Homo sapiens: one gene and its partners. The protein of the gene in region 1 interacts with the protein of each later gene in a biochemical or structural test. Each region holds a gene or a part of one and is shown in the gene's direction. Other genes may lie near its edges.

Region 1 (4,501 bases):
CTACATCCCAGTGACTGTGAAGTGCTGACCACACTCACCCCAGACACTGGCCGTATCCTGTCCAAGCTACATACTGTCCAACCCAAGGGCAAGATCACCTTCTGCACGGGCATCCGCGTGGCCCATGTGAGTCCTACTGGGTTCCCTGGACCTTTCCTCCCTGCTCTGAGGTCCTGCCTCCATCATACTCATTTCTCCCCTGGAATCCTGAGCTAGGACCAGAGCAAGAGAAAGCTAACTTGGAGTAGAAAGGATATGGGGGATGAATCCCAGGGTAGTTGAGGGTTGTGAAGGGAAAAATCCCTAGAATTGAGAATTAAGGCTGGGCGTGGTAGTTCATGCCTGTAATCCCATCACTTTGGGAGGCCAGGGGAGGAGGATTGCTGAAGGCTAGCAGTTCAAGACCAGCCTGGGCACATAGGGAGACCCTGTTTCTCTAAAAAAAAAAAAAAAAAGGCCGGGCGCGGTGGCTCACACCTGTAATCCCAGCACTTTGGGAGGCTAACACGGGCAGATCACCTGACGTCACGAGTTCGAGACCAATCTGGCCAACGTGGTGAAACCCCATCTCTACTGAAAATATAAAAATTAGCCAGTACTAGGAAGGCTGAGGCAGGATAATCGCTGGAACCCGGGAGGTGGAGGTTGCAGTGAACTGAGATCACGCCACTGCACTCCAGACTGGGCGACAGAGCGAGACTCCATCTCAAAAAAAAAAAAAGAGAGAAAGAGAATTAACCTCCCTTCTTTATGCACAGAGAGTCATAGCAAAAAGGGAGGAGGTGGGGGTGTTAAATCTTGTGTGAACGTGATGGTAGATGGTGTACTTCAGGTACAAAGAAACTGTAAGAAAAAGGGAACCGAGTGACAGAGGAAAGAGCTGAGTGATTCCTCTGGTTAACTCTGAGAACTTCCTCTCCCTTTACAAGCTGGCTCTGAAGCACCGACAAGGCAAGAATCACAAGATGCGCATCATTGCCTTTGTGGGAAGCCCAGTGGAGGACAATGAGAAGGATGTGAGTCCAAGTGGCAGCTGGGGAATGTGGGGAGCCCATGTTTGGGACTGAGGTCTTCCAGCCCTCAGGAGAACCTGGCAGAGGCATCAGGCTCATCACTTTGGGGAAAGGTGAATGTGGAGAATTCAGTGATTCTGTTGGAGGACCTTGGGGAGGTCAATAGATTTCTGTATGCTTTTATGCGGCGGGTCCTTTCCCCCCCTCGAGTATGGAACAGATTTCTTGATTTTTCTCCCCTTCTTCCCAGCTGGTGAAACTGGCTAAACGCCTCAAGAAGGAGAAAGTAAATGTTGACATTATCAATTTTGGGGAAGAGGTGAGTAGGGACTGATTGGAGGGCATTGACTTAATTTGGTCATAAACAGAATGGTCCTTAACCCTGAGGAGTGCGGGTACTGTGGCAGAGTAGTGCAGAAATGGGAAAGAACAGGGAGCAAGGCCTGAAGAAGGGCATCATGTGTTCTTTCCTCCCCAGGAGGTGAACACAGAAAAGCTGACAGCCTTTGTAAACACGTTGAATGGCAAAGATGGAACCGGTTCTCATCTGGTGACAGTGCCTCCTGGGCCCAGTTTGGCTGATGCTCTCATCAGTTCTCCGATTTTGGCTGGTGAAGGTGGTGCCATGCTGGGTCTTGGTGCCAGTGACTTTGAATTTGGAGTAGATCCCAGTGCTGATCCTGAGCTGGCCTTGGTGAGCAAATGTTGACCCCAGGTAGAGTCCAAAGGTCCCTCTTTGTTCTCTTCTGGCACACACATCACAGAGCTTCTATCAGGCTGGATAGTCCTAGACACTACCAATCACTCATTTTCCAAGACCTCCTTTTGCCGCCTCTTCCCTATAATGCTGTCTGATCTCTAGGGGCACCAGTGTCAGATGCTTTCTTGTTCACTTCTGATGAAAACCGAGGCTTCTCCCAAGTCCTTACTTTTTAATCCCGTACCACTGCTTATCCCTCCAGCTTCTTCTCTGTGTGATAAACCAGAAGCTGCCCCTTTATGTTCCTTTCCCACACCCCAACTGACTTTCCCAGCTCCCTGTAGGAGTGAGGGCAGGGGAGCCCTGATTATGCCCTGCCCTTCACCAGGCCCTTCGTGTATCTATGGAAGAGCAGCGGCAGCGGCAGGAGGAGGAGGCCCGGCGGGCAGCTGCAGCTTCTGCTGCTGAGGCCGGGATTGCTACGACTGGGACTGAAGGTGAAAGAGGTGGAATCCGAAGTCCTGGGACTGCGGGATGCTAAACATTGAAAGCTGGGTGTAGGCACTGCAGGGAGAGTGTGGAGGTCTGACAGGGTAGGAATATGTGGGAGGGCTGGGCTAGGAATGGCCTTGGAGGCTGGCCTGTGTGGATATGGCACCAATTCTACCCTGCTCCTCTTTTCCTTTTCCCAGACTCAGACGATGCCCTGCTGAAGATGACCATCAGCCAGCAAGAGTTTGGCCGCACTGGGCTTCCTGACCTAAGCAGTATGACTGAGGAAGAGCAGATTGCTTATGCCATGCAGATGTCCCTGCAGGGAGCAGGTGAGCCAGAGCCTGGGTGGTGCCTAGGCAGAGGTTGGGGTGAGGAAGTGTAACTGAACAGACTGACCTCTCTTCCTCAGAGTTTGGCCAGGCGGAATCAGCAGACATTGATGCCAGCTCAGCTATGGACACATCTGAGCCAGCCAAGGTGAGACCCAACCCTGCCCCCATCAGGTTTAAAGTCCTTGAATTTAGATCCTCATCCCTCTGGGGCTGGGAGTATTTCTACCATAGCTAAGTCCTTTGAGGAGCAGAGGGAAACACATGGATTTGCATTTCTTACATGTAAACCTTGCTAAGGTAGCAATGCTAATGGTCAGAGTTGGAGAAATGTCCTCTTGTTCTGTAATTTTCCTTTCTTGCTGGTGGGAGCAGCCTGGGCAGTTCTCTAGGATGTCTTCCCAGGAGGGAAAAAAGCGGGTCTGGGAAAAAGAAAAAGGAGAACTGGGTGTCTTGAGAGCAGGAAACCTCAATGTGATGGCATCTGTTTTTCTCCTCAGAGCTCAATTAACAGAGTTCTCAGCAGGCCCCTCTATTTGGTTAGTAATAACTGCATTCATGCTGTATAAAGGATTTTGCTGACTTGTCCTTTCCTTACGTCGACCAGAGGTGCCCAGATCCCCACACAGTCAGAAGGCAGGGGGCCTCTGGCAGCGGCATGCTCCTGTCCTTAACACCTGCTTACTTCCTGCCGCTCCATACCCTCCCTTGAGCTCACACTGCCTGTTTGCAGGAGGAGGATGATTACGACGTGATGCAGGACCCCGAGTTCCTTCAGAGTGTCCTAGAGAACCTCCCAGGTGTGGATCCCAACAATGAAGCCATTCGAAATGCTATGGGCTCCCTGGCCTCCCAGGCCACCAAGGACGGCAAGAAGGACAAGAAGGAGGAAGACAAGAAGTGAGACTGGAGGGAAAGGGTAGCTGAGTCTGCTTAGGGGACTGCATGGGAAGCACGGAATATAGGGTTAGATGTGTGTTATCTGTAACCATTACAGCCTAAATAAAGCTTGGCAACTTTTTTTCCTTTTTTGCTTCAAATATTGATGGTTTTGAGTGTGAGAGAGGGGAGGAGTCCCTGGCCTGAAGGAGAACCTTCCTTGTTGAGTTCTCTATGTCTCTGTTTCCACCTGTCTGGGCCTCCTAACGTGCTGGGATTACAGGCCCAGGAGCCAGGTTTCCATTTCTAATGAACGAAGACCTTATTTAAACCACCTTCTTGCCAATAACTTTTACTCTGCACTCACACAGCTGAACCCCAAGCATGGAATGATACTCAACCTTTTCAGTTTTTTCATGTGGACTTCTGAGGTTCAGCAAGTTTAGGTTATTTGGCCAAGGATATTTAGCTAATGAAGAGGCAGAACCAGGATCAAAATCCAAACTTGTCTCAGACCTGTCTCGCCAGGAGTTGAATCACCACCAAACAGTAGTTTCCCATTGGTCAGCTGCCTTCAGTGACTCTGCTCAGCCCTGCAAGTCAGTTCCTTGTAGCAACTACTATACCTTCCTCTACTCCCCGATCACTCTCAACAGAAGCCTGACATCTTTACAGAGAGTCAAGGCCGTGAGGCAGGAAGTTCTGGCTCCCTCCCTCCTGCCAGCACCTCCCTGCATCAGTTATGCTGTCTCCTGAGTCTCTGCTGTCCTAAACACCCTGCTGGCGTTTTCCTCTCAGTGTACATGCATAAAATCCACTCTACAAGTAACCTTACCTTGAGACTTTATATTATACGGTTTAAATATTATTTTACAAGGAACATCTATTCCCTTTATAATTTTTTTTAAAGTTTTTTTTTTTTTCAGCCAGGTGCGGTGGCTCACACCTGTAATCCCAGCACTTTGGGAGGCCGAGGTGGGCAGATCACAAGGTCAGGAGTTTGAGACCAGCCTGACCAATATGGTGAAACCCCGTCTCTACTAAAAATAGAAAAAAAATTAGCCGGGTGTGGTGGCACACGCCTG
Region 2 (8,710 bases), on another chromosome or scaffold:
CTTGACAAAGGCTCTCTCTTCTGACCAAACTTTAGTCAGTCTCCTGAGTCCTTTCTGATTAGGCGCAGCCTTGGGCTCCTCTCTCTTCTTGTAGAATCCAGTTAGAGCAAGAACTTTGCCAAGTCAGTTGAGAGAAGGCCCTCATCTTTTGTATCTGATCCTTTTATCTTTTATCTGGTCACCCTGGCCTGCCTTCAGCAACAATAGTATCAAGTCATTTTAGCCAGAAGCCCCTTCTCCTTGATATTTCTTTTGATTTTTCATCCACTGACCCCCCCTTCTGCCCCTCTTGTTCCTTGATTATAAATTCCCACATGTCCTAATTGGACTTGGAGTTGAGTCCAGTCTCTCTCCCCCACTGCAAGACCTGTTGCAGGGGTCCCTATACATATTGTCATGGCCTCTTTGAATGGCCTTCTTTAACAAGTGTCATAAATTATATATATTTGAGATGGATTTTCGCTCTGTCACTAGGCTGGAGTGCAGTGGCGCAATCTCAGCTCACTGCAAGCTCCGCCTCCGGGTTCAAGTGATTCTCCTGCCTCAGCCTCCCAAGTAGCTGGGACTACAGGCATGCGCCACCACGCCCAGCTAATTTTTGTATTTTAATAGAGACAGGGTTTCACCATGTTAGCCAGGATGGTCTCAATCTCTTGACCTCGTGATCTGCCCACCTTGGCCTCCCAAAGTGCTGGGATTACAGGCGTGAGCCACCGCTCCTAGCCCATAAATAATTTTTTAACATGCTGTTTGGAGACATAGTAATTTTATTCAGCATCTTAGTTGGATATGAAGAACATGGAAGAAAGAGAAATCAAGTTAGTGGTGAGGAAAAGTTGTTCACATCTGATTGGGAATCCAGAATTTCAATCACCCAAACAGATGATAGAAGCTAAAAGAAGTTACAAGGTCATTGCATAGGAGGATTACTCTGATTCCTAGGAAACATGGGCTAGGATGCCTTATTTCAGTGGAGGTCATGAATTCCTGTTGCCATAGTCACTGTGAGAAAGGGCTTGGCCTTCTCACCTGTGATTCAGGTAGAATCATTCTGGAAGCATGTAATCAGTCCTCAAATTTTGTGTTCTGGTTTTGAATCTCTGACATATTCTGGTCCAAATTTTTTAACCCAGGTTCATTTGTCTCAATAGTTGGGTAGGTGCAGCTGGGCGCGGTGGCTCACACCTGTAATCCCAGCACTTTGGGAGGCCAAGGCGGGCAGATGACGAGGTCAGGAGATCGAGACCATCCTGGCTAACATGGTGAAACCCCGCCTCTACTAAAAATACAAAAAATTAGCCGGGCATGGTGGTGGGTGCCTGTAGTACCAGCAACTTGGGAGGCTGAGGCAGGAGATTGGCGTGAACCCGGAAGGCGGAGCTTGCAGTGAGCTGAGATTGTGCCACTGCACTCCAGCCTGGGTGACAGAGCAAGACTCCGCCTCAAAAAAAAAAAAAAAAGTTGGGTAGGTGATACACTTACTCTAACAAGATAAAAAAATAAGGAGAGAGATGATAAATAAATAAATCCGTGGTATTAGTACTACTGAATTAAGTTCAGGATCATCTGTTTGTGTTTTATCCGTGTTTGTTTTTTAACCCCTTTTAATGTTAAAAAGAATTCGATATACAATATTAGTCATGTGACTTTAAGTTTAAGGGTGAATAAAAACTAAGGTGACCTTGGAAGTAAGAAGGTGGCTACTCATCACTGTAGGCTTACCATCTGAGAAACCTCCATGGGAGGCCAGAATAACTTACTTCTTTTGCTTTTTTAAACTTAATTCCAGAAGACATCACATATGCATGACAAAGATAAAAGCACAAGTCTGCACCATTTCTGTGTTCTCAATAAATCTTATTGCCTAAAATATTAAGGAACGTTGAACTAAACATGTGTATTTTCTTTTAGCACATTAAAGATGCCATTCCATTGTCTTCTGGATTTATTGTTTCTGAAGTCAGCTGACAATCTTAAAAGGCAATGCATCTTTTCCCCGGCACCTTTTTTTTGTTTAATTAAATTAAATTAATTTTTTTTTTTTTGAGATGGAGTCTCAATCTGTTGCCCAGGCTGGAGTGCAATGGTGCAATCTTTGCTCACTGCAACCTGCATCTCCCAGGTTCCAGCGATTCTCCTGCCTCGGCCTTCCAAGTAGCTGGGATGACAGGCGCCCTCCACCACAGCCAGCTAAGTTTTGTATTTTTAGTAGAGACGGGGTTTCATCGTATTCGTCAAACTCATCTCGAACTCCTGACCTCAGGTGATCCACCTGCCTCAGCCTCCCAAAGTGCTGGGATTACTAGCGTGAGCCACCGTACCTGGCCCTGGCACCTTTTAAGATTTTATCTTTTTCCTTGGTTTTCAATGGTTCTACTAGAATGCACTGGGTGTGGCTGATTTTGTATTTATCCTGCTTAGGAGTCATAGAACTTACAGAATTTGTAATTTGATGTCTTTCATCAGTTTTGCGAAACTTGGACTCTTGGTTATTATCTTTTCAAATATTGTTTCTGCCCCTTTCTCTCTTTTTCTAGAAACCTGAATACCTGGTAGAACTTTTCATCATGTCCCATGTGTCTCTAATGCTTGTTTCTGTATTTTCCATTCTTTCCTTCTATGCTTCAGTTTGGATATTTTCTATTGATGTGCCTGCAGTTCACTAATCGTGTCTTTAGTTTTGTCTAACATCCAGAGTTCACAGCCTCATTTATTACACTTTTCACCTCTAGAGTTTTCATTTGATTTATTTTTATAGATTTCAATACTCAGGTGAAAATTTTCATCTTTTTTTCTGTTTTCTTGAAAATGTTCATCAGAGTTATTTTAATCAGGCAACTCCAATATCTGACTCATCTGTGGGTCTGTTTCTATTGTCTTTTTCTTTTTTTATCTAGTAACTTTTTAATGAGATGCCAAATATAGCTTCTAAAAAGTTGTAGAGGCTTCAAATGTTATCATTCTCTCAGGAGGGTTTTTCCCTTTCCTCCACAAAACCAAAGACAGGAGTGGCCAATAACCTTAATCCAATCAGGGACTGCATGGAGTGAAGGCTGGGCTGAGGTTCTGGTAGGGTTCAAGCTACCGTTGCCCTCCAGTTTCCAACTGGGAACATGGTGTAGGCTCTGCAGTAACCCACTTCCACCACCACCCTAGCAGATCTCAGACTCGAATCTTTGTTTTGCAAGTCTATCAAAAACTTCTGCTTTCAGAGGCCTTCCATTTACATTTCAGTTTCTTGCCCCATACAAGCCTTGAATTCAGCAATTGTCCTTGGAATTTCCCCCTACATCGCTGTGTTGGTTTTGTGTCCCCAGCAGTGGCCCTCTGTGGTCTCAAAGTCTAAATTCTCAGCCTCATGCTTGTATCCAGAACTGGCAAAAGCCCTCACACACCAATACAAGCCACTGCAGACATTAGCTCACCCCTTGAAGGTTCCTCATTCTCTGGAATATCAAGTCCCCCCATTCTTGCCTCAGCAGCTTTCACTGCCTTCAAACAGATGTTTTCTGACTTCGCTTTCTGGCTTTTCTAGTTGTTGTTAGTGGGAGCCTTGGTCTACTGCAAGCTGCTCCATCACACCTGAGCGTGGACATTCAATTTCCTGATGGTCTACTACGTAAATGTAAAAGTGAAACTATCTTTGTTACTCATCTCAGAGAAAGCCCTCAGAAAAAAATGTCAGAACAGTTTCTGTTGTCCTTCTACCTTGCTGCAATTGCTACTGAGCAATCAACGGGCTTTTTCCTGATGTGCTAGAAGCCAACACCATGGCACGGGCTTTTGAGAAAAGAAAGGCTTTATTGTGAGTTGACTGTCAAGGAGACATGAGGAAACCCTCAGCTCTGTCTCCTTGAGCTTGGGGCTGGGTTGGGTTTTATAAGCATAGGGTAATGACGCATGATCGGATTAGATTTTGCGATGAGGTGATGCTGGGATGCTCATCTGACTGGACCCTGCCATGGGGTGACACCAGGGCTTGATCTGATTGCATTCTGGATCTCACCATGCAGTGCCCATTTCTTAATTCAGTCCCTGCTTTGATCTGAGCACTCAGGTTCCGCCCCTGGTTGCATGCTTGGTTCACCTGGGCATCCTCAGGTTACGTGCGAAACCTTCCATCTGGGAGTCCATGCAACTGAAAAACAACTCACAACTTGGGTATATAAAAGGCGAATCAGATTGGTCTGGTGCGGTTATACAGTTATTAATATCCCTTTGTCAGAAGTCAAAATTACCACAAATTTAGATTAAAGATCTATTGGTTTTTATTGATTCATGAATCAGGATGGCATCTTCTCTGAAAATTTAGAAACGGTGCTCCAACGAGCTGGGCAGAGGAGGTGGGCTTTATAGGTAGAAAAGGGCTAAAGAAAGCAGCAACAGGGAACGAAAAACGGATTGGTCACTGCAAGGTTACAGGAGTCCCCTCTCGTCCACACACAGGTGGTGTGTCCCAAGACCCACAGTGGATGCCTGAAACCTCGGATAGTACTGCACCCCATTTTACATACACACACATATATATATACTATATATATACACACACTTCATTTTTCCTATACATACGTACATACCTACGATAAAGTTTAATTTATTAGGCACAGTAAGAGATTAACAGCAATAACTGATAATAAAATAGAAGCGTCACTGTTGAGCACAGCCTTGGGAATAGGACCTTGGAAGTAGGCAGAGCTCCCTAGGCCTTGTGGTCCCTAGTGGCCGTGGACAGCATGGGGGAGGAAATTCCCGGGAAGCAGCCTAATTTCACCCCAGGGAAGCCCCTGGTGGGCTTGTGGAGGGCGGGGTGAAAAGCCGCTGGTTTAGGGAAGGGGTCCAGCCTAGGCTGAGGAATGAGATGCGGGTTGGGACGGTCCCGACCCTTCCCCCAGCCTCTTTCAAGGATTCTGGAGAAACAAAGCCAGGATCCATTTCCTCTTGATGGCTGGCAAACTGAGCCCGGGCGGGAAGTCCTGGAAGACTGAGCCTGGGGTGGCGTTGGACACCAACTCCCAGGTCCTCGCCCCACACGGCCACATCCTCGCCCAGCCCCGCCTCCGCTTAGCTCCGCCCCGTCGCGGCTCCGCCCCGCGGTAACCACGCCCACACAACCGTATCCCCGCCCACAGCTGGCTTCGCCTTGGCCCCGCCCACAACCCTCTTTCCAAGCGGCGGCGGCGGCGGCGGCGCGAAGGCGACAGCGGCGGCGGGGGCGGGGCTGGCCTCACCCGGAATGAAAACAAACGGCGGCCGCTGCCGCATCCGGGCACTCTGCTGGTCGCGGCGGGAGTGGCGTGGCGCAGGTGAGGACACGGCGGCCGAGTGTCCTCGACCCCAGCCTCAGCAGCACTGCTTGGCGCCCCGGTTCCCGGTCCGACTGGGCACCTCTCCTGGCCAGGGGTGGAGCGGCCGCGGGGCGGGGGTGAGCAGCCATGCGTGGAGCTGGGCCGGGGCCGGGGCCGGGGCCGGGAGCGGTGGGCCGGGCTTCGGGACGCGCTGGCCGTTCGGGGCCCTTTGGTTTGCCCTGAGTTAGGCAGAGGTGTGGGGTATTTAAAAGAAAATATTGAGTGTATCGGTTTGGGGAGAGAAAGGAATAAATATGTCTATAAAAAATTAGCCAAATGCTATACTTGAATCGTAACACTCCGAGTATACCATTTGGGATTTATTTGCAATCAAAGCCAGATTTTCTTTGCTATTTAATGACAAGACACTTGATTTTCTCGAACCTTGACGACCTGATTCTATCATTCTCACCTCCTTCCCTTTTATTTTTAATCAAGAATCTTTCATTTTCCTAAGAAAAAATGAATGTGTCTTGACTAGATATAGTTGTGTTTCAACTATATATAATGTATACTTGAAAAGGTGTGGCTAAATGTAGCAATGATCGATTCATTACAAAAGTGAAAGTGAAATTTTTAAAGGATCGTTATAACGTTTCACTTTCTGCTTGGACCACGGAGTGATATTAATGAGTTTCGTCTTTTCTTAGTTACAATGTGAAACATTGTATGGCATGCATGAAACTTTTTCAGTTCTCATTTCAGTTAAAATTAAAAACTGACTTATTAAACTTGACTTAAAATATGTCGCCACTTACTCTGTTGTCTATAACTGAAGTTCCTTAAGTTTCAAGACAGTGGTTTAATTTTTTTTTAACATTAAATCTTATTCGGTGTAACCCTGGAGCTCTTGTTTGCTCCCTGGAGTGTCTGACACGCACTGGGTTTGTAACACTCCTTCGTCCTTCTGTCAAGTGGTGGCTTGGATGGCATCTTTTTAAAAATTTTTTATTTGTTTATTTTTTTAGTAGAGACGGGGTTTCACCATGTTGACCAGGCTGGTCTTGAACTCCTGACCTCAGGTGATCCACTGGCCTCGGCCTCCCAAGTGCTGGGATTACAGGTGTGAGCCACCGCGCCCGGCCTTGGATGGCATCTCTGAGTACCGCATCAGCCTTTCAAATTGCTTGGCTCCAGTAACCAGCCTGTGAAATTACTGTCCCCCAGTGGGGAGACAGTAGGGTTGCTGTGATATTTTATTCAGAATTTCTGAAGATTCATGAGTAGTATGTAAAGTAGTTTTTAAAGTTATTTGTGTTTGAAAAGCTAACGCTCTAAGTACTAATATGCTTTGCTGTGATAAGCCGTTTGTCAGTGCTTGAAAAATGGAGGATTCTCCCATGGGCCACCCAGGTTGCACACAGCAGCCTCATTGGCTGTGTTATTCCTTCCTCTCTTTTCTCCTCCCTGTCCTGATTAGCCTAATTCTTGTCCCCGCACTGACATAAAATAGATTTGAACTTTCTTTTAAAAAATATTTGTTTATGAAATACACAAGCTACCAAAGTTTTCAAAGATTTCAAAGTTGTGTGAATTGGGTTTGGGGGGATGTGGAATACTGGCCCTCAATAGAAGAAAGAAATTTATCTTGGTAATATTAACTCATATTTTTTCCACTCTCTAGAACTTGTCTTCATCATTCAGGGGCTAATAACATTTTTCTTTACTTATTGCTTGTCTGATTTGGGAAACCTTAAAGCGCTGTGCTACACCTGCCAGCTGCCTTACATCTCAGCCGCCTCACTCACCTTTGAATTGCTGTGCTAGTATGGGATGAGTAGACAGCTCCATCGCGGTACATACTTCTCTGGGAGAGAGAAGTTACATACCTGGAACAGGCAAGCAGCAAGGGACTCCATGACGGAAGTTCAGAGTCCAGTGTTGTGGGTGGAAGTTGTGCTCGTTAAGATGCTGCCTAATTTTGTGTCTTTGCCTGAGTCATGGTACAAACTCAGGGCCCTAATTTTCTCAGCTGTAAAATGATCCGATCAGTGTTAGATTTGAATAGTAGGGCCAGGCGCGGTGGCTCAGGCCTGTAATCCCAGCACTTTGGGAGGCCGAGGCGGGCGGATCACAAGGTCAGGAGATTGAGACCATCCTGGCCAACACGGTGAAACCCCATCTCTACTAAAAATACAAAAAATCAGCCGGGCGTGGTGGCGGGCGCCTGTAGTCCCAGCTACTGGGGAGGCTGAGGCAGGAGAATGGCGTGAACCCGGGAGGCGGAGCTTGCAGTGAGCCGAGATTGTACCACTGCACTCTAGCCTGGGCGACAGAGTGAGACTCCCTCTCAAAAAAAAAAAAAAAAAAAAAAAAAAAAAAAAAGTAGATGTGCTGTTAGGCTGTTAATCAGAAAATATGCAAAATTTTCCTAGTATTGTAATCTTTTTAATTTAAAAAATTCTGACATAGAAAATATTTATATATTTATTATTATTTTGAGACGGAGTCTCACTCTGTTGCCCAGGCTGGAGTGCAGTGGTGCCATCTCGGCTCACTACAACCTCTGCCTCCTGGATTCAAGCGATTCTCCTGCCTCAGTCTCCCGAGTAGCTGGGATTACAGGTACCTGCCACCACGCCCGGCTAATTGTTCATATATTTTTTTTTTTTTAGTAGAGATAGGGCTTCACCATGTTGACCAGGCTGGTCTCGAACTCCTGACCTCAGCTCCTGAACTCAGCCTCCCAAAGTGCTGGGGTTACAGGCCTGAGCCACCACACCCATCCGAAAATATTTATTATCGATAGTTTACAGTTCAAGCAAGCTTTTCTTTATATTTAACTACCAGGATGGTTGGCCTTTTGTTTTATGTTAAACTAGCCAAAGTATGAGAGAATTTACAAGCTCACGCCTGTAATCCCAGCGTTTTGAGACCAAGGTGGGTGGATCACTTGAGGTCAGGAATTCGAGACCAGCCTGGCCAACATGGCGAAACCCCGTCTCTACTAAAAATATGAAAATTAGCCGGGCGTGGTGGCGCATGCCTGTAATCCCAGTGAGTAGGGAGGCTGATGCAGGGGAATTGCTTGAACCCAGGGGGCGGAGCTTGCAGTGAGCCGAGATCGCACCACTGCACTCCAGCCTGGGCGACAGAGCGAGACTCCGTCTCAAAAAAGAAAAAAAGAAGTTCACGACTCGAGGGATTTATCTTTCTCTTATTTTCTCTTTTCTCTTAGATAAGAGAATAGCAGATTAAGAAATAGAAACATGTAATAATCCTTGCTACATATTAGCAACTTTGAAATACATATTTTATATATGTAATATATATAATTGAACATATATTTCTATATATATTTTTAGAGAAGTCTGGAGCTCATTTAAACCATAGTAATTTATATTTAATGACAGAGGAAGGGAGCT
Region 3 (8,255 bases), on another chromosome or scaffold:
TATAGGTACATGGTGAAATGATCAGGAACAATTTGATGGCACCCATTAAAAACACAGGACTGCATTTTGGAAATTTCTGATGGTGTAGAAAGTTTTAATATAAATTGTACCATTACTGTATTTAACATGAAGAACTAATTATTATATCTTTAATTGGCTTTTGTTCATGTTCCTTTAATAAGAATTGGGTAATGCATGTCTCCATCTGCTTATGCTTACATACGAACATGTGATGCCAGCCAAACAAAATCCATTTAATGCTTTCTTTCTCAAGTCTGCTGAAAAGTGTGACTGATATCCATACAATCTTTATAATTAAAATGATATGATTCAGGGGAAAGGCCCAAAATGAAATGCCATGTTCTCTTTCTTGTTAAGTTTGTGCCTACGGGAGTGAGAGTATGAAGGAATCCTTCTGAACTATTTAAGTCTGTAGAAAACCTCTGATATGTACTTTGTAAACAGAAATAACTTTGAATGTTTTTATCTCAGTTGTAAATGTAGAACAGCAGGCAAAAGAAGTTTTTTTAGTGAGATCATCCTATTTTATAGGATCTTTTCTTCTGAGACCTCAGTACAGATTTGGGTGGTGGAGAACTTTAATTGGGAAGCCCTTCTGGTTTACACTCCCCAAGATCTGTTCTCCACTGTTTTCCTCTGCACCTCCTACAAAATATTCTCTGAAATGCTAACCAAGTTATCTTTTGGTCTGGAATTTTTTTTCATTTTTGCCCAACTGTCATTTAGGTTTTATAGCAGCAGCTACTCTCAAATATAGTTTTTTTAAATCTGAAATTAAACCCATTCTTGAACTTAAACATACATCTCTGTCTTTCTCTTGGGATATTTCCATGCCATTCTGTATTTCCTTCTTCTCTCCTTTCTGCATGCCCAAAATTCTATAACCCAGCACATTCTGACTTAGTGCCTCTCCCCTAGTACATTTAAAGGACATTTCTTTTACCGAACAGCTTTGGAACTACAGCAGTAATAGAAACAGAATGAGAAATGGACCTAATATAGAGATTTGGGGGGGTCTGAATCATAGAGTTTGAGATGCCATCCATAGAACATCCCCTAGTGCTGAAATCCATATAGATAGATGTGAATTGTTTTCTGGAATCCTTTTTATTTTTAATGTCTTGGGGGGTTTGCTGGTTGTTAGCTTTAACTTCCTTATCTAAAGGAAGATGGAAAATACTGTTCATTTCTGTAACCTTATGGAAAAATTATTGACACTCATTTTACCCAAGCCTCTGTTTGAAAAAGAAACTGGACCACACTAGGGACAATGATGTGCCTTCATAGCAGAACAAATGCTGTTCTGTTTTAAAGGACCTTTTGTAAAAAATCATTCGCCACCTTCTGTGTTCTTTTTCTTTGCCTCCTCCCCCTACTGAAAGCTCGGGGATTGGATCATATTGCTGAGAACATTCTGTCATACCTGGATGCCAAATCACTATGTGCTGCTGAACTTGTGTGCAAGGAATGGTACCGAGTGACCTCTGATGGCATGCTGTGGAAGAAGCTTATCGAGAGAATGGTCAGGACAGATTCTCTGTGGAGAGGCCTGGCAGAACGAAGAGGATGGTGAGCCTTTAACTTTTCTTACTCTTATACGGCTTCAGGACCTGGCCATTCACAGTCACTGAAAGATTTTTGGGGAGCCAATGAGACCACTTCTCATTTAATATGGTGATTTTGTTGATTTCTAGCTTAAAATGTAACAGAGAACAAATGTTCATATACTCAGCAGTTTTTCTTCTTACCTGTCACTCACAAAATGACATGATATTGTATTAATACTGCTTTGCAAAAAATAATGGAAAGCTGATCAGCCCTCCTGTTTAAAACATTCTGTTATCTGGGCAGAAGTTGGTATCCTGTGGCTGGGCACAGTGCGTTCACGCCTGCAATCCCAGCACTTTCGGAGGCCAAGGTGGGCAGATCACTCGAGGCCAGGAGTTTGAGACCAGCCTGGCCAACGTGGCGAAACCCCAACTCTACTAAAAATACAAAATTTAGCCGAGTATGGTGGCGTGCACCTGTAATCCCAGCTACTGTAGAGGCTGAGGCAGGAGAATCGCATGAACCCTAGGTTTCTTTCAGAAAATTTCTTGCCTTTATCTTATGCCTCTGGTGTTTTGTCACCTTTGTAATCAAAAATTATTTTTAAGCCCAAGTGGAATAAGAACTCTAGCCATCAGAAAAAGTGAAAATGAAATTAAGTATAAATCATTGTTTCTTCTTAAGACTTCTGTTTTTCAAGATTTTCTGACTTAATTCCGAATTCCCCAAAGCATCATATAGTTAGCAGTCTAAGAGACTTCACTAATTTTTTTGTTGTTCTCTTAACAGTACTATTTCATTAGAACTTCTGAAAGATATCTTTCTTTAAATACTTTTCTCTCAGAGTATGTCTCTAGAATGTCACTATAGGAAAGCTACGTAGTAATAGTTCACAAATAAAGGTGACATATTAAATATTCTCATTGACAGAAAAAATTATAATAGGCATGTGTGTGCTTAGTGATGTCCTTCCAAATTAATTTTATCAGTTGTTTATCTTGGATCATAAAGAGGAAAACAGTTAAAAGTAGAGAACACTTTTAAAAGATAAATATTCATGGGCCAGCTTTCCTTTGAATTTTCATGAAAAAGTAGTTGGCTCTCTTTCTTTTTTTCTATCTTTGAAATTTATTAACACATAATAAATACAATGACCTATAAATATTATACCAAATGCCTCAGATTTTTATCATTCTGGCTATTAGGAAGACTGTTTAAATTTTTCTCTCAAATTGAATTAAAGGAACAAAAAAACTAGGCAATTTTTAGGCTGTGTAACAAAGAATATTGTTGGCCGGGTGGGGTGGCTCACGCCTGTAATCCCAACAGTTTTGGAGGCCAAGGCAAGAGGATCGTTTGAGCCCAGGAGTTTGATACCAGGCTGGGCAACATATTGAGACCTCATCTCTACAAAAAAATCAAAAAATTAGCTGGGCCTGGTGGCGCATGCCTGTAATCCCAGCCACTCAGGAGGCTAAGGTGGGAGGATGGCTTGAGTCTGGGAAGTTGAGGCTGCAGTGAGCTGTGGTCATGCCACTGCACTCCAGCCTGGGCAACAGAGCAAGACCCTGTCTCTTTCTCTGTCTCTCTCTCTCTCTCTCTCTCTCTCTCTCACATACACACACACACACACACACACACAAAAGAATATTATTACTACTTCTCAAATATGTTTTTTAATTCTTATTTCGCTACATAGAAAAATAGAAATCTTTCATAACCTACTTCATACTTTGGAAATAAACTCTTTAATAGTACAACAAAGCAAATAAAAATGGAGTTATATGGTATTCGGGGTCCATCATTTTGCTAAGAGTGCTGGGACCAGCCTTGGGGATACAGCAGGCAGTTGCTTACATGAGAAAATTTTAGGGCAGCTGAGAAGATTTCTGTATCCCTCAGAAAAAAAGAATCTCGTCTCCAAATAACTCCTGAAATTTCAGTTAAGGAGATTCATTCCTTTAGCTATAAAGGTTCTGTTACCTGTTAAAATACATTGTGTTCCCATTTGGACTGTAAATGACAGTAAACCTTCATCATAAATTGGGAGTTTACTGAGTCCTTTTTTGAAGGCAGAAAGATCAAGAAGTAAGTGGGCAGTTCTTGGCAGATGGATGTGAAAATGCCAAAGGTAAAAGGCTCCACAGTTTTGCTTGGGATTGGCACTAAATGGCAAGATCTTTTATGTTAGTTACAAAGAAAAAACAATCATTGAGAAGATGGCTTTTGAGCCTTTCTAAAGGGTAGGTGAAGTAATCCAGGATCCAGCACTAATTACCACTTTTTTCCCCTATCTCTTTATCCACAGAAACCCATTCCCGCTCTTTTGAGTATCCTTCAGAGTTCTGACTATATCCCCTTGTCTTTGGGCATGTTTATCCTCTTAATCCCATGATAAACCCATGAAATTCCAAATACTTATACATCCCGTGTCAACTTCCTCCATTATTCCCTCGACTTTCTTGTTGCTGCTTCTGTTTTTACATGTTGACTTTATTCCTGTGTCAGTTTTCTTCCCTTTTTTAAAAAAAAATTTACTCCATCAGTTTCTCATTTTCTTCTTTCAAGTTGTCTTACCAAGCCTAATACGTCAATAAAGTCTTTCTGTGTTATACTTTTCCCCATATGCTAGCTTTGAAAGGTTCTTCCATTTCTACTAACCAAAAATAGTAAGTAAATACAGTTTTCTAATAAAGCTTTTATCTCTAAGTTTTAACTTGGTATTTGATGTTGTATTTTATATCTAGATGGATTTGACAGTCTTCCCCTGGGACATGAACTCTGTAGTTTTCTCTCTTGAATAATACTGAATATGCTGTCTGCTCAGTAATGGTAACTCTTAAAAGTATAATAAAAGACCACTTGGGAAAAGTCAATTTTCTTAATCAGCAGATCACATTTTATGATAACATTCTGAATTTAATATTTAACGTTTATCATGTACTCACATTCTTGTAGGTACTAGGCATTTCACATAGAAGTAGTCCCTGTTTTCAAAGATCTTCCATCATAAAAGGTTTTGACTTAAAACATAAAGACAGAAGCCAGTTTTCAGTACCTAGCCACCTCTTTCTGTAACACTTTGATTTGAAGAAATTCAGATACTTTACCAAGACATGGTAAATGCAGTGAGGTGGAAAACAAGATCAGAAGCTTATGTGAGTTCTCTTTCCTTAGAATGTAGATAGTATCATTGCATAGGAAGAAAGTCTTGGAGTGCTAGAGATTAAAAGAAGACAGGAATCTCAGGAATGGTGGGCATTGAGAAACAATAAAGTAGTTAAGAATGTGGGTGGGCTCAGGAGTCAGACTTAAAATCTTCACATTCAAAATCTATTATTTGCCTGCAAAGTGTTTGTAGAATAATATTGTACAGAGAAATGTACCATTAATCTGGAATTCTTTCATAACGCATCTTGTTTCCCCTTTTGTTTATGCTGGTGTATCATGTTTCATTAATCCCCCTTTTTATAAGTATTATTTTCACTTCTCTATTTCAGATTTTCTTTTCTGTATTAACACAGAAGTTAGAGCCATCTACCTTCCTGATAGGAAATTTTCTCAACTAATTTTCAGGGTATATAACAGGGAGAGGGCAGGGGAGAAACACTCCTGGAGACACCAAACAATTAATTATATTGTAATGGAGCTATAGAGGGAGGAGTGGATGACTGGCCCAGAGAAAACATGATTTCTCTGGTGCCAGGATTACACTCAGAGGCATTTCTGCCTCTCTCCACTTTGCAAGGCACGGTGCCAGTGAGAACAGCAGTTAGTACACCCATAGTGGGGTTTACTAGCTTCCACACCGTGTTTGGTGGGTTCTTAACTTCCGGATGAGGAATTAAATTTTTTACCCAGCAGGAAGTGATTGCCATTTACTGATTTTTTTTTTGTAGCAAAGATCTAGCTTGGGATACGAGTATTCCAGAGATGTGCTGTCATAAGGAAGGAGATACTAACAAATGTTGCTCACTGGAATCAGGGAAGGCAGTTAAGTACATGTGTATGTACACAGCCAGGAACACACCTGTGAAAGTCAGTTTCATGCCTTAGACTTGATAGCAGTGCTCTTAGGCATTTCTTTTTTTTCTTCTTCCCTAGCTGCTGCTGGACACACCTGTGATCCTTTTGTTTTCTGATGAAATGAACTGAATTGCTCCTTTCAAAGCATAGTTGCACTGATTAGCAGCAGCCTGGGTGACTGAGCAGCCACCACACCTTACCCTGTACAAATAAAGACCTAGCAAAAGTGATCTCCATGCCAGAGGCATTGCTGCTGTCTACAATGCTGGGGACCACTGACACAGTAAAAGGGAAAAAAAAAAAAACCTATAGGGCATGTGCTAGTTCAAAGGTAATAGTTACCATTACTAACAAAATTTCCAAAAGATGAGGCCAGTGAATCTAAGCAGTAGTCTTAATAGAGCAATAGATGAATTCTGATTGTACATATTCCATTTGTTTACTGATATTATAATATTCCTAAAGGCTTGGTACTCCGATGTTCTACACTGGAAATAATCATGTTTTACCCAAAAGCAAATCAGTGTTGGTCAGATTCTTTAGAGCCCAGAAGGTTACTCTTTGACATGGGACTCCTGAAATCAGGCTTACCTTTGCTCCTCCGCAGACAGCTATGGAGAGTATATGGAATGGTAACCGTGAAAACACTTTCAAAATATATGAAGTTCCTTATAAATATATAATGTCGGCCGGGTGTGATGGCTCACGCCTGTAATCCCAGCACTTTGGGAGGCCAAGCAGGCGGGTCATTTGAGGCCAGGAGTTCAAGACCAGCCTGACCAACATGGTGAAACCCCATCTCTACTAAAATACAAAAATTAGCCAGCATGGTGGCAGATGACTGTAATCACAGCTACTCAGGAGGCTGAGGCAGGAGAATCACTTGAACCCAGGAAGCGGAGGTTGCAGTGAGCCAACATCACACTGCTGCACTCCAGCCTGGGCAACAGAGCGAGACTCTGTCTCAAAATATATATGTATTTAAATATATAATGTCATGATTTTCACTGGGAAATATTTGTTATTTTTTAGGGGACAGTATTTATTCAAAAACAAACCTCCTGACGGGAATGCTCCTCCCAACTCTTTTTATAGAGCACTTTATCCTAAAATTATACAAGACATTGAGGTAAGAATCTATGTATTTTGGGGTATTGCCCAAGGGCACAGAATTATCAGCATTCTTCAGTCACAGTATGGTTACAGCAAGCCCATTAAGGTTTATTGACATGAGTTGGGAATCAATCTCTTAGCTGGCCATGGTGGCTCACACCTGTAATCCCAGCATTTTTGGAGGCTGAGGTCAGGAGTTTGAGACCAGCCTGGCTAACATGGTGAGACCCCTGTCTCTACTAAAAATACAAAAATTAGCCAGGCATGGTGGCACACACCTGTAATTCCAGCTACTCAGGAGGCTGAGATAGGAGAATCACTTGAACCTGGGAGGCACATGTTGCAGTGAGCCAAGATCGCACCACTGCACTCCCTCCTGAACGACAGAGCGAGACTCCATCAAAAAAAAAGAAAAGGAAAAGAAAATCAATCTCTTTACAGGCGAGTAGGGTAGGTAAAATAAATTGCTAGGCAAAATTTTAAAGCTTTAAAAAATGGTTTACTAATAAGTAGATGAGAGAGTTAAAGAGATTGATCCCTTCATACATAGCAGTGTGACTGGTAAACTTGTACTCATAAGCTCATATTTAAATATCTTCTGAATTGAACCTCCTTAGAAGTTCATCAGTAGCAATCAGTAGCAATGGCCATCACATATGTAAGAGCACTGAGTGTATAACCTCACGTAGTTCGTAGCTTTTCTTCTCTTGATGAGTAGTCTCTTTCCACCAGATTTATTATTTAATTGAACAAATTATAGGCAGGGAAGTTCTAGGAAACAACCTTTAATTACCTTGCAAAAGGAAGAATATTTTATAAATATAGATAGTAGCCTTTTAAAGACATTTTTTAGTTTTCCCTAAGTTGTGTATATCCCATAGAGTAAAGCATTGAGCCATTGATTGTCATTAAAGCCTAAAAAGAGTTTGATTCTAGGTGTTTCCTAACACTGCCTCTTTCCCATTCCTTCTTCTCAGACAATAGAATCTAATTGGAGATGTGGAAGACATAGTTTACAGAGAATTCACTGCCGAAGTGAAACAAGCAAAGGAGTTTACTGTTTACAGTATGATGATCAGAAAATAGTAAGCGGCCTTCGAGACAACACAATCAAGGTGAGGTCTATTCAGTTGTAGAAAGGTAGCAGAGGGAGCAAGAGTGACCACATTCATAGCGCAGTCTAAAGCATAAACTCTAAGCATTATTTCTAGAAAGTAAGTGAAGATTTTAGATTGTTTCCAGTCCCAAAGCCAAAATCATTTCCTTAAAGGACAGACATCAGCTTCCCCACTATACAAACGGGTAGTCCTAGGGTTAAATTCTCTTCTTGAAATGCACTGAATGGGCTGTTACTCTTTTGGCCATCACATAATTATAGACTACCCTGTTCCTTAATGAAAAGGATAAAAGTTTGCATTAGTACTGAAGCTATATGTGTGTGTGTGTGTGTGTGTGTGTGTGTGTGTGTGTGTGCGCGTGTGCGCGCGCGCGCGCTTAGCTATACCTATAGAAAATGCATTCCACACTACTCTGGGCTTTGATTATTT
Region 4 (8,255 bases), on another chromosome or scaffold:
TCCGTCCTTCCCTCCCTTTCTCTGTCTAAAGACTTCCTCTCAAAGCCTTCTTGATTGCCTCATTTGAAGTCAATAGCTCAGTCTTTTATGCCCTGCAGAACATTGCTTCCATCTCTATCATCAGCAATTGTCCTCCTATTTTAAGTCTCAGAATTAGCATCATTTACACTTGTTTTTCACATATACGCCAGATGAGAAACTCCTTGAGGAAGCAAGGACATCTTACCCTATGTTTTTATTCCCTTTATTCCCCATCGTTGGCCCTACTACAATACCACCTGGCCCAGAGTAGGCCTTTGATAAATGCTTACCTGCACCAGCTGCCTAGTATCCAGTCTAAAGTTGCTGTTCTGCAAGCTTACCATTTTTTTAATGACATAAGCAGTATAGGAAACTGCTCATATCATGCTTATATTGCTTATATCAACTGCTTACATTATTATGTTTCTATAGGGCTTTCCATTTTCCCTAAATAAATTGAGAATGAAATTGATTTTTTTTCCTTAGAGCTAACCTTCTTTTTTGGAGGTGACAGAATATTGATGGCATGTTTTCTCTTACTGGTTTCCCCTGGAAATTTGCCCATGAAGTACTGAGGAATAAAATATTTAGATATATCTTTTGTAAAATTTACAATAAGTTCTGCCTAAAGCATAGTTGTGTACATTTGTCACATAAGCAAAGAACGTACAAAAGATTAGTGAGGCAATGTAGCTCCATTAATTAAGAGCACAGACTCAGGAGCTAAGACTTTCTTAAGTCGTCTTCTTCAGTTTTATGTGTAAAATGAAGACAATAATAGTAGCTTTCGCATAGTGTTGTTATGAGGTTAAACACGTTAACCTGCCATTCCAGGGTACCCATGCCTGGCTGTTTTAGTCCGTTTTCATGCTGCTGATAAAGACATACCTGAGACCAGGCAATTTACAAAAGGAAGAGGTTTATTGGACCTACAGTTCTACATGGCTAGGGAGGCCTCACAATCATGGCAGAAGGCAAGGAGGAGCAAGTCACATCTTACATGGATGGCAGCAGGCAAAGAGAGAGCTTGTGCATAGAAACCATTAGATGTCGTGAGACCCATTCACTATCATGAGAACAGTGCAGGAAAGATCCGCCCCCATAATTCAATCACCTCCCACCAGGTTCTTCCCATGACACATGGAGATTGTGGGAGTTACAATTCAAGATTAGATTTGGGTAGGGACACAGCCAGAATATATCACTGGCACAGTCTGTAAATGTCACCATCTGTTAATGAGTGAAGCAAGATAGACTCCAGGGAGGAAAGTAGAGGTAGGGAAAAGCCTGAACAGACAGGCACAACAGCTAGCAGGCAGTGGCTATCCTACAGGTCACAGAACGGTGTTCATTGGAACTTAATATGAAAAGGACTGTTAACGAAATGCCTTCATGGGGGCATTACCATCACCATCAATTGCTTCTTTAGGCCGGGTGCCATGGCTTATGCCTGTAATCTCAGCACTTTGGGAGGCCAAGGCGGGAGGATTGCTAGAGCTTAGGAGTTTGAGACCAGCCTGGGCAAGATGGCAAGACCTCAAAAACTTAAAAAATTAGTCAGGCATGATGGCATGCGCCTGTGGTCCAGTTACTTAGGAATCGGAAGCAAGAGGATCACTTGAGCCCATGAGGTCGAGGCTGCAGTAAGCCATGTTCACGCCACTGCACTCCAGCCTGGACTACAGAGCTGTCTCCAAAAACAAAAGCTTCTTCAGATGTAAAGAAGTCTATATTACTAAGTGATTAAAGAAAATGCAGAAACTGTCTCATACCATAGAGGAAACCAAGACAATATACCTAGTTGTGTTTTCCCTGAGTATATTACGTAAGGAAAAAGAGACTTGGACACAGGGTGTAGAGGGAATGTTATAACTTTATGAGAGATGGGTTTGTTATTATGTTGAACTGATTTAAACAGTACGTCTCTCCTCTGGATTTTCAGAATGACATTCCAAACAAATTTGAAATGAAACTTCGCCGAGCAACTGTTCTTGAAGACTCTTACCGGAGAATTATGGGTGTCAAGAGAGCAGACTTCCTGAAGGCTCGACTGTGGATTGAGTTTGATGGTGAAAAGGGATTGGATTATGGAGGAGTTGCCAGAGAATGGTTCTTCCTGATCTCAAAGGAAATGTTTAACCCTTATTATGGGTTGTTTGAATATTCTGCTACGTAAGTACCTTTACAATGATTATCGGCAGAAAAAGAAAAATCACTGTTTTAAAAGTAAGAGTCGGCCGGGTGCAGTGGCTCATGCCTGTAATCCCAGCACTTTGGGAGGCCGAGGCGGGCGGATCACAAGGTCAGGATATCGAGACCATCCTAGCTAACACGGTGAAACCCCGTCTCTACTAAAAATACAAAAACTTACCCAGGCGTGGTGGCGGGCGCCTGTAGTCCCAGCTACTCAGGAGGCTGAGGCAGGAGAATGGCGTGAACCCGGAAGGCGGAGCCGAGATCACGCCACTGCACTCCAGCCTGGGCAACAGAGCAAGACTCCTCTAAAAAAAAAAGTTACCATTTTAGCCATTTTAAATATACAATTTAGAGTCATTACATACATTCACATTGTTGTGCTGCCATCCCACTATCCAACTCTAGAACTTTTTCATCTTCCCAAAATGAAACCCTATACCCAGTAAGCACTCGCTCCCCATTCCCTGGCAGCCACCATTCTGCTTTCTGTCCCTATGAATTTGACTCCTCGGGTACCTCACATAAGTGGAATCATTCAATATTTGTCTTTTTGTGACCAGCTCATTTCACTTAACATGATGTCTTCAGGGTTCATCCATGTTGTAGTATGTATCAGAATGTCCTTCCTTTTTAAGGCAGAATAATATTCCATTATTTTTGCATATAATGCTTTGTTTAGGCTGGGCGTGGTGGCTCATGCCTGTAATCCCACCACTTTGGGAGGCCAAGGCTGGTGGATCACAATGCCAGGAGTTCAAGACCAGCCTGACCAACATAGTGAAACCCTGTCTCTACTAAAAATACAAAAATTAACCAGGCATGGTGGCGGGCGCCTGTAATTCCAGCTACTTGGGAGGCTGAGACAGGAGAATCACTTGAACCTGGGAGGCGGAGGTTGCAGTGAGCTGTGACCGTGTCATTGCACTCCAGCCTGGGCGAGAGCAAGACTCCATCTCAAAAACAAACGAACAAACAAAACTTTGTTTATACATTCATCTGCCAAAGGACATTTGGGTTATTTCCACTTTTTGACAGAAATTACTATTTTTAAAACCATTAAATCCAGTGGAGGAATGTGGTTCTAACAGTGGTAAACAACTCTTAAAGGAGGAAGATTATTTGTAATTATTTGTCATATTAAAGTTTTTCAAATGAAGTATTTAAATGGGGTTGTCTTTACAGGGACAATTATACCCTACAGATAAATCCAAACTCTGGATTGTGTAACGAAGATCACCTCTCTTACTTCAAGTTTATTGGTCGGGTAGCTGGAATGGCAGTTTATCATGGCAAACTGTTGGATGGTTAGTATTAAGTATAAACTTTTTACAATATAATTACCTGTTTTCTTTCACTTGGTAATCATCCTAAATGTATTTGGTTTTTTGCAAGGTTTTTTCATCCGCCCATTTTACAAGATGATGCTTCACAAACCAATAACCCTTCATGATATGGAATCTGTGGTATGTCTTTTTCACTTATAGTATAGACGAAGTATAATTTAACAAGCAGCTTGAACATTTTGAAGAATTTGCTTTTAATGACATGGAAATTAATATATTATCATGTTTCAAAATACAAATGAACTTTTTCCTCAACATTTTATTATGAAAATTTTCTAACATATAATAAAGTTGGAAGAATTTTACATTGGACAGTTGTATATCAACTACTCACAATTGCTTTTTTTCTAGATTTACTTTATCACATACCTATCTGTCTATCCATCAGTCTGTCTTAGTTTCTTCATGCATTTCAGAGTAAGTTATAGATAACATTAAACATCCCACTAAATACTTCAATAGGTTATACCAAGTTATATGTCTTTTGAATCAGTATTTGCATTATGATCTTTTATGATGAATGTTATATATATATATATATATATATATATATATATATATATATATTTTTTTTTTTTTTTTTTTTTTTTTTTGAGACAGAGTGTCACTCTGTTGCCAAGCTGGAGTGCAGTGGCGTGATCTTGGCTCACTGCAACCTCTGCTTTCCAAGTTCAAGCAATTCTCTGCCTCAGCCTCCTGTGTAGCTGGGACTACAGGCGCGCACCACCACACTCAGCTAATTTTTGTATATTTAGTAGAGACGGGGTTTCACCGTGTTCACCAGGATGGTCTCAGTCTTTTGACCTCGTTATCCGCCTGCCTCAGCGTCCCAAAGTGCTGGGATTACAGGCATGAGCCACCGCACCTGGCCAAATGGTGTATATTTTTTAAATGGCAGTCGAAAGGCAAAGCGTTATGGTTAGGTTCCTAGAAAAAAACAGAAGCCCAAGGATTAAACCCCGGACTGTAGCCGTGTTGTTTCCTGTGCTGCTGAATAGCCTCACACAATGTGTGTTCACATGAATTCCAGGGCATCTTCCTTAGTACCAAGTTCATTTTTTATTCTTTTCTTATTACATATTAACAGCACAAACAGTGTGATTCTTTATAAATCATAAGATTGCACAGTTACTTGAGTTGGTTCATTGAGCCTCTATATTTATTAAGAGATTTTTCTTTAACTCGGGCTGGGTATAAACAATGGCCTCCTCATAGCTACTTAAACATTTCACACTTAGTGCCGGACACAGGGGTGTGCAACTGTAATCCCAGCACTTTGGGAAGCTGAGGCAGGTGGATCACTTGAGGTCAGGAGTTTGAGACCAGCCTGGCCAACATGGTGATACTCTGTCTCTACAAAAAATACAAAAATTAGCCAGGCGTGGTGGTGCGCGCCTGTAGTCCCAGCTACTTGGGAGGCTGAGGTAGGAGGATCACTTGAGTCAAGGAGGTCGAGGCTGCAGTGAGCCACAGTCGCCCCACTGCACTCCAACCTAAGGGACAGAGCGAGACCCTGTCTCAAAAAAAAAAAAATTAAATTAAAAAATAAAAATAAAACATTTAACACGAAGTCACATAGGCATATGAGGAATGTGCTAAGTGCTCCTGGATATCCAGAGAAGTTAGGTTTTATCTGAAAACTTCTGTATTCATTCCTTTAACTGGATGATAAAATCTGTACCTCCACTGCTTCCACATAAACATAGATTCTAAACTTTTAAGTAGGCACCAATTGATTAATTGATTGATGCATTTTTACTCTTGCCCTTACCTGTCATCCATCTCTTTTTGTAATACACACACATACACACATACATTTTTGTTTATATATGTGTGTAAGTAAAGGATGTCCATCTGACCTCTCATCTTTTACCCAATTATTCAGACCCTCTACATACTGTTTTTTGCAATTTCAGGTGTGTTATAGATACAAATTTTAAATATGTAATTTTTCCCATCTAGGATAGTGAATATTACAATTCCCTAAGATGGATTCTTGAAAATGACCCAACAGAATTGGACCTCAGGTTTATCATAGATGAAGAACTTTTTGGACAGGTTTGTGAATTTTGATCAGTTAAAATGGCACATAAATTGTGAGACAAATGTTTAGATGTTAATACGTACACTTAATACATTCCTAGGCTCTGTTTTTACATTCATTTCCCAGTAACAAAAGCTGTCTCTGAGCAAGAATTTGTACTTTCTTTAACATTTGACTCGTTCCATATTTATTTTAGTAAAACTAGTATTTTAAGTTTTCTTAGTTTTTAACTTTTGACTGGACTTAATTTAAAACACCAAGTTTCTCGTATAACTACAATATGTATACTTTTTAAATTTTTCTCGCTAAAATAACATATCAAGTTATTGTGTTTAATTTTAGACACATCAACATGAGCTGAAAAATGGTGGATCAGAAATAGTTGTCACCAATAAGAACAAAAAGGAATATATTTAGTAAGTATTTTATTAGTATGTATTTTATTGGATATAATTTTGTACTTTATTCCAGAAAGACTCTTCTTACCATCTTTCTCTGTCCCCTTGTCCAGAATCTCAGTGTTCTTTTTCTCTATCACAATGCAGTAGCAAGCACTCATATTCAGCTTTTACCTTGGTCTCAGCTAGCCTTTAGTTTTTGTTTCTAACTAGAATAATTGTGCCTCAGAATTTTGTCTTGGTTCACATGAAAATGAAATGTTGTTTCTTTTTAGTCTTGTAATACAATGGCGATTTGTAAACCGAATCCAGAAGCAAATGGCTGCTTTTAAAGAGGTATTCATTTTCTTTTATTTGCTCTTCCATAATGTCACAGTATAACCTATAAGTTTCAAATATTAGGCCTCATCACATCTGAGAAAAATAAGTATATGGCTTGTTTTGTGAAATCATTCTAAATTATATTTTTATATTAACTAAATATTCCATTCAGTCATTCAAGAAGTCTAGACAATAAACATGGACAGGTCCCCTTTCCCCCAAGCCTTTTCCCTATTCCATTCTCTTCACTTTAGGACAGCAAAAGAACAAGAGTGCTTTAGGGATAGTATAACATATTGTTTGTTTTTCTAAATAGGATCACCTTACACATTTTGTTTTGTGACTTACTTTCTTCTTTTTTTTTTTTTTTTGAGCGCGGAGTGAGTCACTTTGTCGCCCAGGCTGGAATGCAGTGGCGTGATCTCGGCTCACTGCAACCTGCACCTCCCAGGTTCAAGCAATTCTCCTGCCTCAGCCTCCTGAGTAGCTGGGATTACAGGTGCCCGCCACCACGCCTGGCTAATTTTTGTATTTTTAGTAGAGACATGGTTTCACCATGTTGGTCGGGCTGGTCTCAAACTCCAGACCTCAAGTGATCCATCCACCTTGGCCTCCCAAAGTGCTGGGGTTACCAGTGTGAGCCACCGTGCTCGGCCTACTTTCTTCTTTTATCAGATATTTATTAGGGATATTTACATGTGACGACATATAGCTGCCTTTCTTTGTGGCTATATTTTATTCAGAATATAAATTAAAAAGTTACTTAAATTTTTCCAATTGGTAGACAGATTGTCAGAGCACTCATTTCTTAAGCTAACTTACAATCTTCTGTTAAATATGTATCTGGCTGGGCATGGTGGCTGACGCCTAAAATCCCAACACTTGAGGAGGCTGAGGCGGGAGGATTGCTTGAGCCCAGGAGTTCGAGACCAACGTGGACAACATAGGGAGACCTTATCTCTATAAAAAATTAAAAATTTGGGCGCGGTGGCTCATTCCTGTGATCCCAGCACTTTGGGAGTCCGAGGTGGGCAGATTGCCTGAGGTCAGGAGTTTGAGACTAGTCTGGCTAATGTGGTGAAACCCTGTCTCTACTAAAAATACAAAAAAATTAGCCGGACGTGGTGGCGTGCACGTGCAGTCCCAGCTACTCGGGAGGCTGAGGCAGGGGAATTGCTTGAACCTGAGAGGCAGAGGTTGCAGTGAGCCAAGATTACGCCACTGCACTCCATCCTGGGCAACAGAGCGAGACTCCGTCTCAAAAAAAAAATTAGCCTGGTGTCATGGCATGTGCATATGGTCACAGCTACTTGGGAGGCTGAGGCTGGAGGATCACTTGAGCCTGGGAAGTCGAGGCTACAGTCAGCTATGAGCTATGATGGCACTACTGCACTCCAGTCTGGGCTACAGAGTGAAACTTTGTCTCTAAAGTGTGTGTGTGTGTGTGTGTGTGTGTGTGTGTGTGTGTGTGTCACATACTTTTTCATAAATTCAGTATTGAGTACTATGTGTATGGTGCTGTACCAGGCCAAAAGACATAGGTCCTGTTATTAAGGTATGTATGATGTAAAGAGTGAAATGAACAGAGGCAAGCATAAAGTGCTAGGTGAGCACAGAAGAGAAGTACAAACCAGGGAGGGGCAAAGGAAGGGACAAAGAAGGACTAGAGGGATTGGCCAACCATGGAGAAGAGGGAAATGCAGTTCTAAGCAACAGGAGCAGCGTGTGTGAAGTCTGGCAATAAGGTAGGCTGTACCCACAGGCAGTTGAGTATGCTGGGTGAGAGAATGCAAGAGGGAAACAATCAGCCTGCGGAGCTAACAGACCAGCTTATACAGGGCCTGTGTGTGAAGTGGTAGAGTTCGGAGTTTTCTCTGAATTTCAATGAGGGAGAAGGAAGGTAGCATTAAAGGCTATTAACCAATAAGACAC

Evidence for each region.
Region 2: the proteins of PSMD4 (region 1) and NUB1 form a complex in vitro, tested with the Homo sapiens proteins (2 studies listed by BioGRID).
Region 3: of the proteins of PSMD4 (region 1) and BTRC, one has a biochemical effect on the other in vitro, tested with the Homo sapiens proteins (2 studies listed by BioGRID).
Region 4: of the proteins of PSMD4 (region 1) and NEDD4, one has a biochemical effect on the other in vitro, tested with the Homo sapiens proteins (4 studies listed by BioGRID).

Annotation. Positions count from the first base shown.
Region 1 is NC_000001.11:151,263,903-151,268,403, forward strand, and holds the end of PSMD4 (26S proteasome non-ATPase regulatory subunit 4), read left to right. Parts: intron 1-11; coding exon 12-126; intron 127-929; coding exon 930-1,016; intron 1,017-1,263; coding exon 1,264-1,332; intron 1,333-1,491; coding exon 1,492-1,707; intron 1,708-2,101; coding exon 2,102-2,210; coding exon of another isoform or gene 2,211-2,219; intron 2,220-2,405; coding exon 2,406-2,537; intron 2,538-2,617; coding exon 2,618-2,685; intron 2,686-3,270; coding exon 3,271-3,441; 3' UTR 3,442-3,577; downstream 3,578-4,501. UniProt on the Homo sapiens protein: Component of the 26S proteasome, a multiprotein complex involved in the ATP-dependent degradation of ubiquitinated proteins.
Region 2 is NC_000007.14:151,336,544-151,345,253, forward strand, and holds the start of NUB1 (NEDD8 ultimate buster 1), read left to right. Parts: upstream 1-5,268; 5' UTR 5,269-5,303; exon of another isoform or gene 5,304-5,422; intron 5,423-8,710. UniProt on the Homo sapiens protein: Specific down-regulator of the NEDD8 conjugation system. Recruits NEDD8, UBD, and their conjugates to the proteasome for degradation. Isoform 1 promotes the degradation of NEDD8 more efficiently than isoform 2.
Region 3 is NC_000010.11:101,524,610-101,532,864, forward strand, and holds part of BTRC (F-box/WD repeat-containing protein 1A), read left to right. Parts: intron 1-1,403; coding exon 1,404-1,590; intron 1,591-6,627; coding exon 6,628-6,724; intron 6,725-7,685; coding exon 7,686-7,823; intron 7,824-8,255. UniProt on the Homo sapiens protein: Substrate recognition component of a SCF (SKP1-CUL1-F-box protein) E3 ubiquitin-protein ligase complex which mediates the ubiquitination and subsequent proteasomal degradation of target proteins. Recognizes and binds to phosphorylated target proteins.
Region 4 is NC_000015.10:55,835,872-55,844,126, reverse strand, and holds part of NEDD4 (E3 ubiquitin-protein ligase NEDD4), read left to right. Parts: intron 1-1,963; coding exon 1,964-2,193; intron 2,194-3,399; coding exon 3,400-3,521; intron 3,522-3,609; coding exon 3,610-3,680; intron 3,681-5,522; coding exon 5,523-5,618; intron 5,619-5,946; coding exon 5,947-6,020; intron 6,021-6,277; coding exon 6,278-6,338; intron 6,339-8,255. UniProt on the Homo sapiens protein: E3 ubiquitin-protein ligase which accepts ubiquitin from an E2 ubiquitin-conjugating enzyme in the form of a thioester and then directly transfers the ubiquitin to targeted substrates. Specifically ubiquitinates 'Lys-63' in target proteins.